Regions from separate parts of the Homo sapiens genome. Here region 2 is linked to region 1. Evidence: fine-mapped expression QTL. A gene starts in region 1. The other region holds a variant in brackets. All regions are shown on one strand. Distances are between the middles of the regions.

Region 1 (5,376 bases):
ACAGGCATGAGCCACCGCACCCAGTCCCAATTCCACCTCTTTCTCAACTTGTGACTTAACCATTCTGGGTCTCTGTTTTATAACCAGTAAAATGAGGATGACATCTACTCAAAGGGCTGTTGTGAGAAATAAATAAGATAGTATTGTAACGTCCCTAAGAAGGATGTCAGCTGTAGTCAGTACTCCACAGAGGGTAGCTGTTTTTAATTAAACATGAACGTGGCGGGTATGGGATATGGGGAGGGCATTCTGGCCAGAGGGAGTGGCATGCGGACAGAAGCCAGAGAAAGCATAGCTCCTTGAAGGGAGGATCTAGAGGATGGGGCTGGGTGAACTGGAGGGTGAGTAATAGGAGATGGCTGGAGAGGGGCTGGGGACCCTCCTGCAAGGGGAGGAGCACTTCATTCCATGCCAGAGAATTGGGCTTGACTCTGTGAGTAGGAGGGTAGCAAGTGGAATTGCCCACCAAGTTCTCTCTGTCATAGTCACCACCAGCTATTCTTGAACACTTTAACCCTCTAGAGCCCCATAAAATTTATAAACATCACCTTTTACTCTTGGATGTTGGCCCTTTTAATGATCACATATCATCTCACTTAAATTGTCTAGACGAATGTAAACTGGTTGATGAATTTACACATTTCTCAACAACTATCTGCTGAGTGAACATTTGTTTTAGTCACCATGGGGATAAATAAAACTTTATAATCTTAGTTGGGAGAATGAGACACACACACAAAGTGACAAGGCAGGAAATGCCAAAATGAGTGGGAACAAAAAGTCGGGAAGTGCTGGAGGAAGGCTCAGCTTGGTGGTCAGGGCCAGCCCTGGGAGGGCTTCACCGCCCCTCTTGGCACACAGAGCTGGTAATCCTGGACAATAAACTCTATCACAGCGGTGGCGGTTCAAGGATGGGAGGCACTGTTGGATGCCTCAGAGTCCCAGCACCACTACCTTATGACAGACAATGCTTAGAATTGTCAATGCATGGTGGTAATAGAAAGTAAACCTATCTTGGGTTGATTTTATTAGTGATTTTAAATTTTCTAAAGACAAAGCCCCACTTATTCCTAATTGCTTGCACCCAGGGTGGGTGGACTGCCCCTTCCCTGCCCCACCCGCCACCACTTGCTTAGCCGCTGTCTCTGGGTCTTAGTTGCAGAATCAGCAAAAGGGGATAAATACCCACCTTAACAAGGTGTTTTGACAAGGTGAAATGAGACAATCCAAGTGAAAATTCCTTCTGGCCCAGGGCTTGACATGGAATATGGCACTTAGCAAGCGCTCCTTTTCCTCTATCATACTCCTTTCTTCTTTCCCTCCCAAAGTGGTTCCAGAATCCAGTGTTGATAAACTAGCCAAGTTCATCCACCTGCCTTTCTGTCTACACCAGCACTGTCCATATTAACATGCACCACTCCTGCCATGAGGATGTAAGAAGCTTGGCAGAAACCAGTACGCTTTGACTTCACTCCCTAATGAGGCTACACACCTTGCTGGGAGGCCACTGTGAGAAAGGGTGCAGCATTTCTATAAGCTCTGTTCTCCACCCCATGATCCAAATCTCAAACAAAACACTGGATTCTCAAGAGCGTGTCCTCAAACTACATTGTGCAAATTACATAATGGTATGTGAAATCATATCTCATCGCAAACAATTTTTCAGGAGTTCTCGGTGTTCTCTCAAACACTTTCGGCAACAATGCTCACTTATCTGCAGGCAGGCTAGTTACTGCTAAACACTGGGCCCCAGTCTGGAGCTCTTAGTTTTCCCAAAAGCATCTCAAAACTCACCCTGAACAAAGACAGAGAGGCGAGAACATGCTATGTCTTTGTCACCTCTTAATCTTGATGTGTCTACACTTTTTTTTGAGTGTGGGAGCAATATAGAGTGCACATTCTTTTAGCGATAACAAGAAAACCCGCTAGAACTTCTTTCAGCGTAAAAAAAATGGCTCAAAGCTTATAAAATACTATTGTTATTAGGAAATTCAAAAACACTTTTCTCACTTTCTAATTAGCGCCTTTACAGGCTAAAAACAACTCATCTGTGCTGCTCTTGGGGAAAGGGATACAGAAAATATTTGACCAAATAAATTAATCAAATTTATTTATTTGGTCAAGTGGCCAGATACTTAAAAATAGACTACTAGTGGGGAAAATATTCTAGGGGAGCAACCTTCTTGCAGTGGATCAGAAATCTCGTTAAGAAATACTGGGATCCCACAGTGTTCGAGGGAGCCCGGTCCTGGGGAGGGATCTCTCTCTTCAACTCACTTAGAAGGAATGGGTTCTAGGTAACAACAAAATCCTCTCCATGTCCCCTCCCCCGCCACCACGCGGAGCCTCTGCTATTGTCACCATATATCTCGCACCCTGCGCACCTCCTGGACACAAGGCCGGGCCGGGGGCTGCTGGTACTGATTCTCTGCTAAACATGCCAAGGGACTGCCTGGGCTTTTCTCTACATCACTTTTCTCGCCTGTAAAATGTGCAAGAAAAAAACTTCCAACAAAGCAAAACTTCAGCGGCAGCGGTTCGCCACTTTATATTTTAAAGATCGAAACGTTTATTGGTGGAGCAACGTGAGAGCTTTTCTTTTTGGGGGTGGTCCTGGGAGAAACACAATGACAAGTGCAACGCAGGACTGCAGGCTCCCCCAGGGGGCTTCCGCTCCATCCTCCTCCATATCCAACACCCCGTGGCAGGCGGGCTGCACCCTCCAAGATCGAGTCCAAAGGGGCATCGGCTGGGCCCGCGAAGGGGGTGGCACGCCCCACCTAAACGTGACTGGAAAAAACTCCAGATCTCAGCCCAAATGCCAGTTTGGCTTTCGGAGGAAACTGAGGCAGGGGTGAGGAGAAGGCGCAACAGTGACCCCCGCAGTCTCCCCTCGGCGTCCCTCCGCCCGCGCACCCCATTCCCGTGCATCTCTCACCTGGCCTGCGGGCCCGGGTGCGGGCAGACAACAGCGGGCCGCACAGACTGAAGCAGGCGGCCACCAGCAGCAGCCGCCGCGGCCCCATTGTCCCGGGCTCTGCGCGGCGCTGCTCCGGGAGGCTGCCCCGCCTCGGGCTGCTCCGCTTCACCCTCTCTCCTGACTTCTGCGGGTCGGGGAGCCGGTCTTCGCGGCAGGCAGAGCGCAGGGTGCCCACGGGTAAGATCAGGGTCCAAGCGACCCTCGGCGAGCGCTGTGTCTGGGGCGGTTAGCGGGGCGGGGCGGGACTGGGGCGCGCGGTCGCGCGGGCGCGAGCGAGGAAGGGCGCCCTCCGGCGTGCAGTGAGAGTCTCTGCGCTGGAGCCGCTCGGCGCCCCCTCCCCGCGGTCCCTCAGCCGCCGCTCGCAAGCCCCTCTGGCTCTGTGCGCCCCGCCCCGCCCCGCCCTGCCCTACTGGGGGGCCCTGGCCGCCGGCCACTGCCGGGCCTAGAAGTCCAAATGAGAAGTTTTTTCCTCTGGGCACCGTTGATTCGCGAAGCTGTCAGTGACTCACACTGGCGGGGTCCTTGGAATGGGGCCGCACGGCTCGCAGGCTGCTTCCCGCGGCCGTCTCGACCCTCCTGGGATGTGGAGACGTCGACAGTGGACGCCCCGGCCAGGATGCGTCCACGCCCTGCAGCCCCGCAGCCCTGGCGTGGCCTCCCGTCCTCCCTCCCTCCGTGTGGGACACCGGCAAAGTTCAGTTTTCGCTAAAAGTCTAAAAGGGACTTCTGCTTTTGTAACGTGGGGATCACGGATTTAAAAGTTTATGATGTAGTGACAGGGTTGCCCCTAAATGAGAAAGGGCCCTTGAGTCTGGACAGAATTCTTGAACTTTTATACGTCTCTCTTTATTTCGCGAAGTTAGGCGTTTCATACGCCGGGCACTCGTTTCCCCCACACGCAGACTGCGAGTGGAATAGGAAGAGCGGCTTCTCCCGCTTCCCCCCCGCGCGGCCTCGCGGAGCTCTTCCCTTTCCCGCGCCGCCCGCCGGGGTCACCTGCGCATCTGGGAGGAGGGCGCGCGTCTGCCGGTGAGGCCGGCGTTCTAGGGCCGCGGGCGCCCAGGAGAGAAATGGCCTGGTAACTTTCCAAGTGTCCTTCACACGTTCTTGAACGATATTACAGTTTGTTTTGTTTTTGAGGCAGGGTCTTGCCCTGTCGCCCAGGCTGGAGTGCAGTGGCGCCAACACGGCTCACTGCAGCCTCGATCTCCCTGGCTCAGGCCACCCTTTCGCCCCAGCCTCCGGATTACCTGGGACCACAGAAAGGCGCGCGCCACCATGTCCGGCTAATTTCACTGCTGGCCTCAAGCGATCCTCCTGCCTCAGCCTCCTAAAGTGCGGGGATTACAGGCGTGAATCACCGCGCCAGGCCTGATATTAAAGGAGTTTGGCTAAATTCAAGGCACAGGGCGGGGACACTCGCTTGGCAGTCTGCTAAGGGCCCCCAGGGGCGTCGCGGCTGGGGGTGGGCAGGAGGAGCCTGCAGCTTAAGTTGCTTTGCCACTGGCTCTGGTGCGTGCGCCTTTCAGACTCCAACAGGAAATGGGTCCCCAAATAGCTGTTTCTAGGAAAGCTCAGCCGCAGCCCCTTCTCCTCTTAACCCAGCGCACTGATGTGCGGGCATATTCGGAGTTCTGTGGTTGATAAGCTGCAGCTGAGAGCCGGTGGTCAGTTTTCTAAGCCTTTTTTAAAAGTGAATTTCGCACGAAGAGTATCATTCCCCCACTAGAGCCCGGACACTTACATCCGTGGAGAAAGTACGATCAGAGGCGATTTCGTTCTTCCCTGTATTCTCCCATCATCCTCAAAGGACAGTACCTTGTTGTACACAGAAGTTGATCACTAAATTGCGGAAGTACCCAGTTAAATAAAGCTTTTTAAAATCTATCCCCGTTCAGTTATCCTCTGGAAACATACCCAAGAGTAAATGTGAACAGTTAAAATTACATAGTTCTTCATTCACTATTAAACTATTTTTCATTATTCCTAAGACGTCATTGATTTTACAATTTATCATTTTAACCCATTACCACAAGCCAGAAAAAAATGTGACATACCAATGATTGTAAGAAACACTCCAATTTCAGGGTTATGAAGAAAAGGCATTTTAGAATCAATGAAACACAGTGGAAAATATAAACACATATGACAAAATTTCTGATAGTTGAAGGATATGAAATGAAAAATAAATTACCTTCTGCCTCCCCTCCCCTAGTTGCCATCTGACCACTAAGTTTCCCCTCCTTCCTTCCTTCCTTCCTTCCTTCCTTCCTTCCTTCCTTCCTCCCTCCCTCTCTTCCTTCCTTCCTTCCTCTCTTCCTTCCTTCCTCTCTCTCTCTCTCTGTCTTTCTTATTTTCTTTCTTTCTTTTTTTTCCTGAGGCGGAGTTTCACTCTT
Region 2 (5,376 bases), 22 kb before region 1:
TCCCTCTCATCCTCCACCCTCAAGTAGGCCCTGGTATCTGTTGTTCTCCTCTTTGTGTCCATGTGTACTCAATGTTTAGTTTCACTTATAAGTGAGAACATGTGGTATTTGGTTTTCTGTTTCTGCATTAGTTGGCTTAGGATAATGGCCTCCAGCTCTATCCATGTTGCTGCAAAGAACGTGATCTTGTTCTTTTTTACGGCTGCATCGTATTCCATGGGGTATATGTACCACATTTTCTTTATCCAGTCTATCATTGGTGGGCATTTAGGTTGATTCCATAGCTTTGCTATTGTGAATAGTGCTGCAGTGAACACCTGTGCGCAGATGTCTTTATGGTAGAATGATTTCTATTCCTTTGGGTATATACCCAATAATGGGACTGCTGGGTTGAATGATAATTCTGTTTTAAATTATTTGAGAAATCACCACACTGCTTTCCACAATGGCTGAACTAATACTTTACATTCCCACCAGCAGTATATAAGCTAAGAAGCACTTTTCAAAAACAGTGGTATTGTTGATCTAAAAGGAAGAAGCTGAGTCAAAATTAATATAAGTAGAGAGTTTATTTGGGCCAAGCTTGAGGACTGCAACCCAGTGTATATTGAAGTGTATATTCAAGTTGTCCTGAATATACAATCTGATTAGCAGCAGTTGCATGTGAATGTTTATAAAGGAAAAGAGGCAGTTCCTAAGTTGTTTATCAAAATTTACATTAAAATAACATAAGCTGTTGATTGGATACACATTGTTCTTTGTATCACAGATTCCAGGAACATGAAGATAACAGGGAATGTAGCTAGTCAGGAACAAAATGCCTTTTTTTTTTTTGAGATGGAGTCTCTCTCCGTTGCCCAGGCTGGAGTGGCGCCATCTTGACTCACTGCAACCTCTACCTTCTGGCCTCCTGGGTTCAAACAATTCTCCTGCCTCAGCCCCCCGAGTAGCTGGGATTTCATGAGCATGCTGCCATGCCTGGCTAATTTTTGTATTTTTAGGAGTGTAGGGGTTCCACCATGTTGACCAGTCTGGTCTCAAACTCCTGACCTCAAGGGATCCTCTCGCCTCGGCCTCCCAAAGTGTTGGGATGACAGGCATGAGCTACCACACCACCAGGAACAAAATGACTTTAAATAATTGCCCACAGGCATGGGGGGTGGTGGGTAGGGGGAGGGTATGTGCCGGGGGTGTGACTGAAGTCCTCTACTCCCGTCTCTCTGGGCCTAATAAATTTTGCACACCTCACATAGCTCAGACTGCTGAGGGATTTTTCTTTTCTTAGTATCAACCCTGGTTTACACATCAGAATCTTCTGAGGAGCTTGAAAACAATATCAATGTCCAGGCCTCGCCCCCAGAGATTGGCACTGGAATTGTTTAGAAGCTCTCCAGTGATTCTATGCGCAACCAGAGTTGAGAACTGATTTAGTTTCTTTTCTTTTCTTTCTTTCTTTTCTTTTTTTTTTTTTTTTGAGACAGAGTCTCGTTCTGTTGCCCAGGCTGGAGTGCAGTGGTGCCATCTCGGCTCAGTGCAGCGTCTGCCTCCCGGGTTCCAGCAATTCTCCTGCCTCAGCCACCCGGGTAGCTGGATTACAGGCACGTGCCACCATGTCTGACTAATTTTTGTATTTTTAGTAGAGACAGGGTTTCACCATGTTGGCCAGCCTGGTCTCGAACTGCTGACCTCAGGTGATCCGCCCGCCTTGGCTTCCCAAAAAGCTAGGATTACAGGCATGAGCCACCAGGCCTGGCCAACTGATTTAGTTTCTAAAACTTGTTACAAGGCAGAGCTGATAAAATTCTAAATCTGAGGTCTTCAAATTTTGTGCTTCCTAACTAAACATTAAGTATTAGGATTAAATCCCAAAGCCAGTTAGCTTCTGGAGGATGGGAATATATTATTTGTCTTGTTTTTTTTAAAATATGTGTCAGCTAGTTTCAAGAGCAACTAGATATCCCAGGATAGGAAACAAAACAACAAAAATAGATATCAAATGATTATGGTTTTGCTCACGAATGCATCTCAGTATTGGACAGCCCACCCTTCGTGGTGTTTTCACTTCCTTGGATGGGTCGCATAGCAGCACACCAAAATGACCTGCAGATGTAGTCATTAAGATAGGCAAAACAGCCAGACTGGCCCTGCCACCATGCAGGCTACTATAGATGCAGCTTTCTTTTCTTTTTTTTTTTTTTGAGATGGAGTTTCGCTCTTGTCATCCAGGCTGGATGGCACAATCTCGGCTCACTGCAACCTCTGCCTCCTGGGTTCAAGCAATTCTCCTGCCTCAGCCTCCTGAGTAGCTGGGATTACAGGTGTGTGCCACCACATCTGGCTAATTTTTGTATTTTTAGTAGAGACAGGGTTTCACATGTTGGCCAGGCTGGTCTCAAACTCCCGACCTCAGGTGATCCACCCGCCTCGGCCTCACTAAAGTGCTGGGATTACAGCGGTGAGCCACCGTGCCCTGGCCAGATGCAGCTTTCAAAGCTCATCTCCTTACTGCTTATGAGTCATTTCCTGAAGTGATAAACACACAGCCTGCTGGGTTGAAACTGTACATGCTGTGTTATCTGAATTCTGAGATGCTACTGAATTTGACCTCTGGTTTTCCGTGTGTTTCCATAAGACTAGCATGCAATCAACAGTCCCCATGACAACAAACTTGGCGCTTGAGTTTCACTTTACAGGAATGCCACCATGGGTAGAATCTGCTGCTGTTCTGAATTGTCTCTTGGTCTTCTGGTCTGAAACTTTGCTCAGCAAGCACCTCTCTCTTTCCTTTACACAGCAGGTGGCTGAAAATCAGACCTCACACAGAGCTTCCTGTTCTGTGGACCACACCATACCTGATGACGTGAATCAGTATCTTTTCTTTTCTTTTTGTGACAGGGTCTCACTCTGTCACCCAGGCTGAAGTGTAGT[G/T]GCACCATCTTGGCTCATTGCAACCTCCGCCTCCCAGGCTCAAGCCATCCTCCCACCTTAGCCTCCCAAGTAGCTGGAACTACAGGCATGAGCCATCACGCTCGGCTAATTTTTGTATTTTTCGTAGAGACGGGGTTTTGCCATTTTGCCTAGGCTGGTCTCGAACTCCTGGGCTCAAACCATTCATCCGCCTTAGCCTTCCAAAGTGCTGGGATAATAGGCGTGAGCCACTGAGCCTGGATGTTGAATCAGTTTCTTGCTCCAAGACTTGGAACCCCTCAGCTCTGAAACAGCCAGAAACCCAGAGTGGTGCCTGCAGCTCTAAGCCAACTCTTTACCCCTGTTTGCTTTTATGCTTTTATAATAATTACCAGTTTATCTGTTTTCTTCAAGTCAATAAAGTTGGGACATCTTGGATAAGGGCAGTGGTTTTCAAACTTCTTTTGCTCAGAACACCTTAATACACTTAAAATTATTGAGGACCAGCAAAGAGCCTTTGTTTATGTGGGTTGCATCCATTGGTGTGCTGGAGTCAACTTGTACCTGCTCACAAGAATTCAATATTCAGGAAATTTGTCAAGCCAACTGTTAAACAGTTGGGAGCTTGAAACTGGAAAAGAAGGGAGTATTCACACCATCAAAATTGGCAAATGCTAGTTTGCCAGATCAGGCTTTTTTTCTTTTTGTGGAGATCCTGCTTAGCAGCACATCACTGACTTTTTTTCTTTTTCATTTTTTGAGACAGCCTTGCTCTGCTCTGTCGTCCAGGCTGGAGTGCAGTGATGCCATCTTGACTCACTGTAACCCTCGCCTCCCAGGCTCAAGTGATTCTCGTGCCTCAGCCTCCCAAGTAGCTGGGATTACAGATGTGCACCACCACACCCAGCTAAGTTTTTTATTTTTAGTAGAGATGGGGTTTACCTATGTTGCCCAGGCTGGTCTCGAACTCCTGGCCTCGTGATCCGCCTGGCTTGGCCTCCCAAAGTGTTGGTATTACAGGTGTGAGCTACTGCACCCTGCTGCCAATGATTTTATCTACTGATATTTTCCATATTAGACATTAAAATGGAGAACTTTTGAAAATATCTATTTCAGCTAAAAATGACAATAAGCCCATTACATGTTAAAATAAATACTATATTTTTCAAAATTTTTTCCCAAAACAATAATTTAAGGAGGAGAGTTGCATTGTTTTACATTTTTGCAATCTCTTTAATGACTGGTGTAATAGGAGACAGTCAGATTTTCGTCTCTGCTTCTGCATTCAATCTGTTGCACTTTCACATGTTGTGTAGCTTCTGGAAAACTCATCTGTCCACTTATGAGAGAAACAGACCAAAAAAGGCAAATAATATCTTGGTATTTGAAGAGAGTTTGACCTTGCAGATCTCCTGAGAGTCTCAGGAACTCTGAGAATAATTGCATTAGAGAATTTCTCCTCTCTTCTCACATTGCAGCTCACTTAACCACACCTCCTTCACAAAACACAATTAGGTTTATCCTGTGGTCAATTACTCTTCACACACATTTGGTCTAGTAGTTTCAAAAGGCATAGCCACATAACAGGCTAATTATGCCAGGAAATTACCATTGGTGAACTGTTTTTCCCCTTAATTTTCACGACAGCACCTGGCTGAAGATAAGCTGCTAATGGATGGTCCAGGCCCCAGAAACTTAAATAGCTTGGTCATCAATGCTGCTTAACCTTTTCCACTTGCTTCTGTAGCTCAACTTCCTCAAAGACATGCCAACGGCAAACAGTTTTTAAAATTTCTTAAATTCAGAAGTATAACCTAAAATTTTCCAAGTGTATATTCAATAGCCAAGCATTCCATTTCCTTAAAAATGCTATTTTTAGCTTGGTGGAAAAAACATTTTTTTTTTTTGGATACATGGTCTCACTCTGTTGCCCAGGCTGGACTGCAGTGGTGCAATCATGGCTCGCTGCAGCCTCAACCTCTTGGGCTCAGACGATCCTCCCACCTCAGCCTCCTGAGTAGCTGGGACCACAGGCATGCCATCGTGCCAGGTTAATTATTTATTTATTTTTTAATTGAGATGGCGTCTCACTATGTTGCTCAGGCTGGTCTCAACCTCCTGGTCTGAAATGATCCTCTGGCCTCAGTCTCCCAAAGTGTTGGCATTATAGGCGTGAGCCACCATGCCTGGACAAAAAAAATTTTTGTGTTAGCAAAATTTAAGGTTTTTTGAACTCAATCTATTCCTTGAAACACACGTGAAAAGTCCAGGCCTTAGAAACTTAAAAAGCTTGTGTGTTAACTTATAAAAATTCTGTATGTTAACAAAATCCTTGTTTAGTTGAAATAATTTTTTCATTGACTATGACTCTAGAAATAATTTATCAAAAATTTTTTTATTTTCAACCTTGAGAAGTACTAGTCATTTTGCTTTAAATTTCCCCTCCTCCCTTCTGCCTGAGGGAGTGCT

The links. PIP is the estimated chance that this variant, and not a neighbour inherited with it, causes the effect.
Region 2: its variant is fine-mapped to the expression of F2R in whole blood (TOPMed, PIP above 0.99).

What each region holds. Positions count from the first base shown.
Region 1 is chr5:76,713,958-76,719,333 of GRCh38, reverse strand. It overlaps F2R (coagulation factor II thrombin receptor), which reads right to left and starts at 3,208. Exons shown (of 2, transcript NM_001992.5): 1 at 2,939-3,208. The coding sequence starts at 3,026. RefSeq lists enhancers at 358-858, 859-1,359 and a silencer at 3,153-3,402.
Region 2 is chr5:76,736,360-76,741,735 of GRCh38, reverse strand. No RefSeq gene overlaps it. Among named protein-coding and RNA genes, the nearest start is that of F2R, 23 kb to the right of the region's middle. RefSeq lists enhancers at 104-183, 2,317-2,386, 2,487-2,816. The variant G/T (reference allele first, on the strand shown) is at 2,929.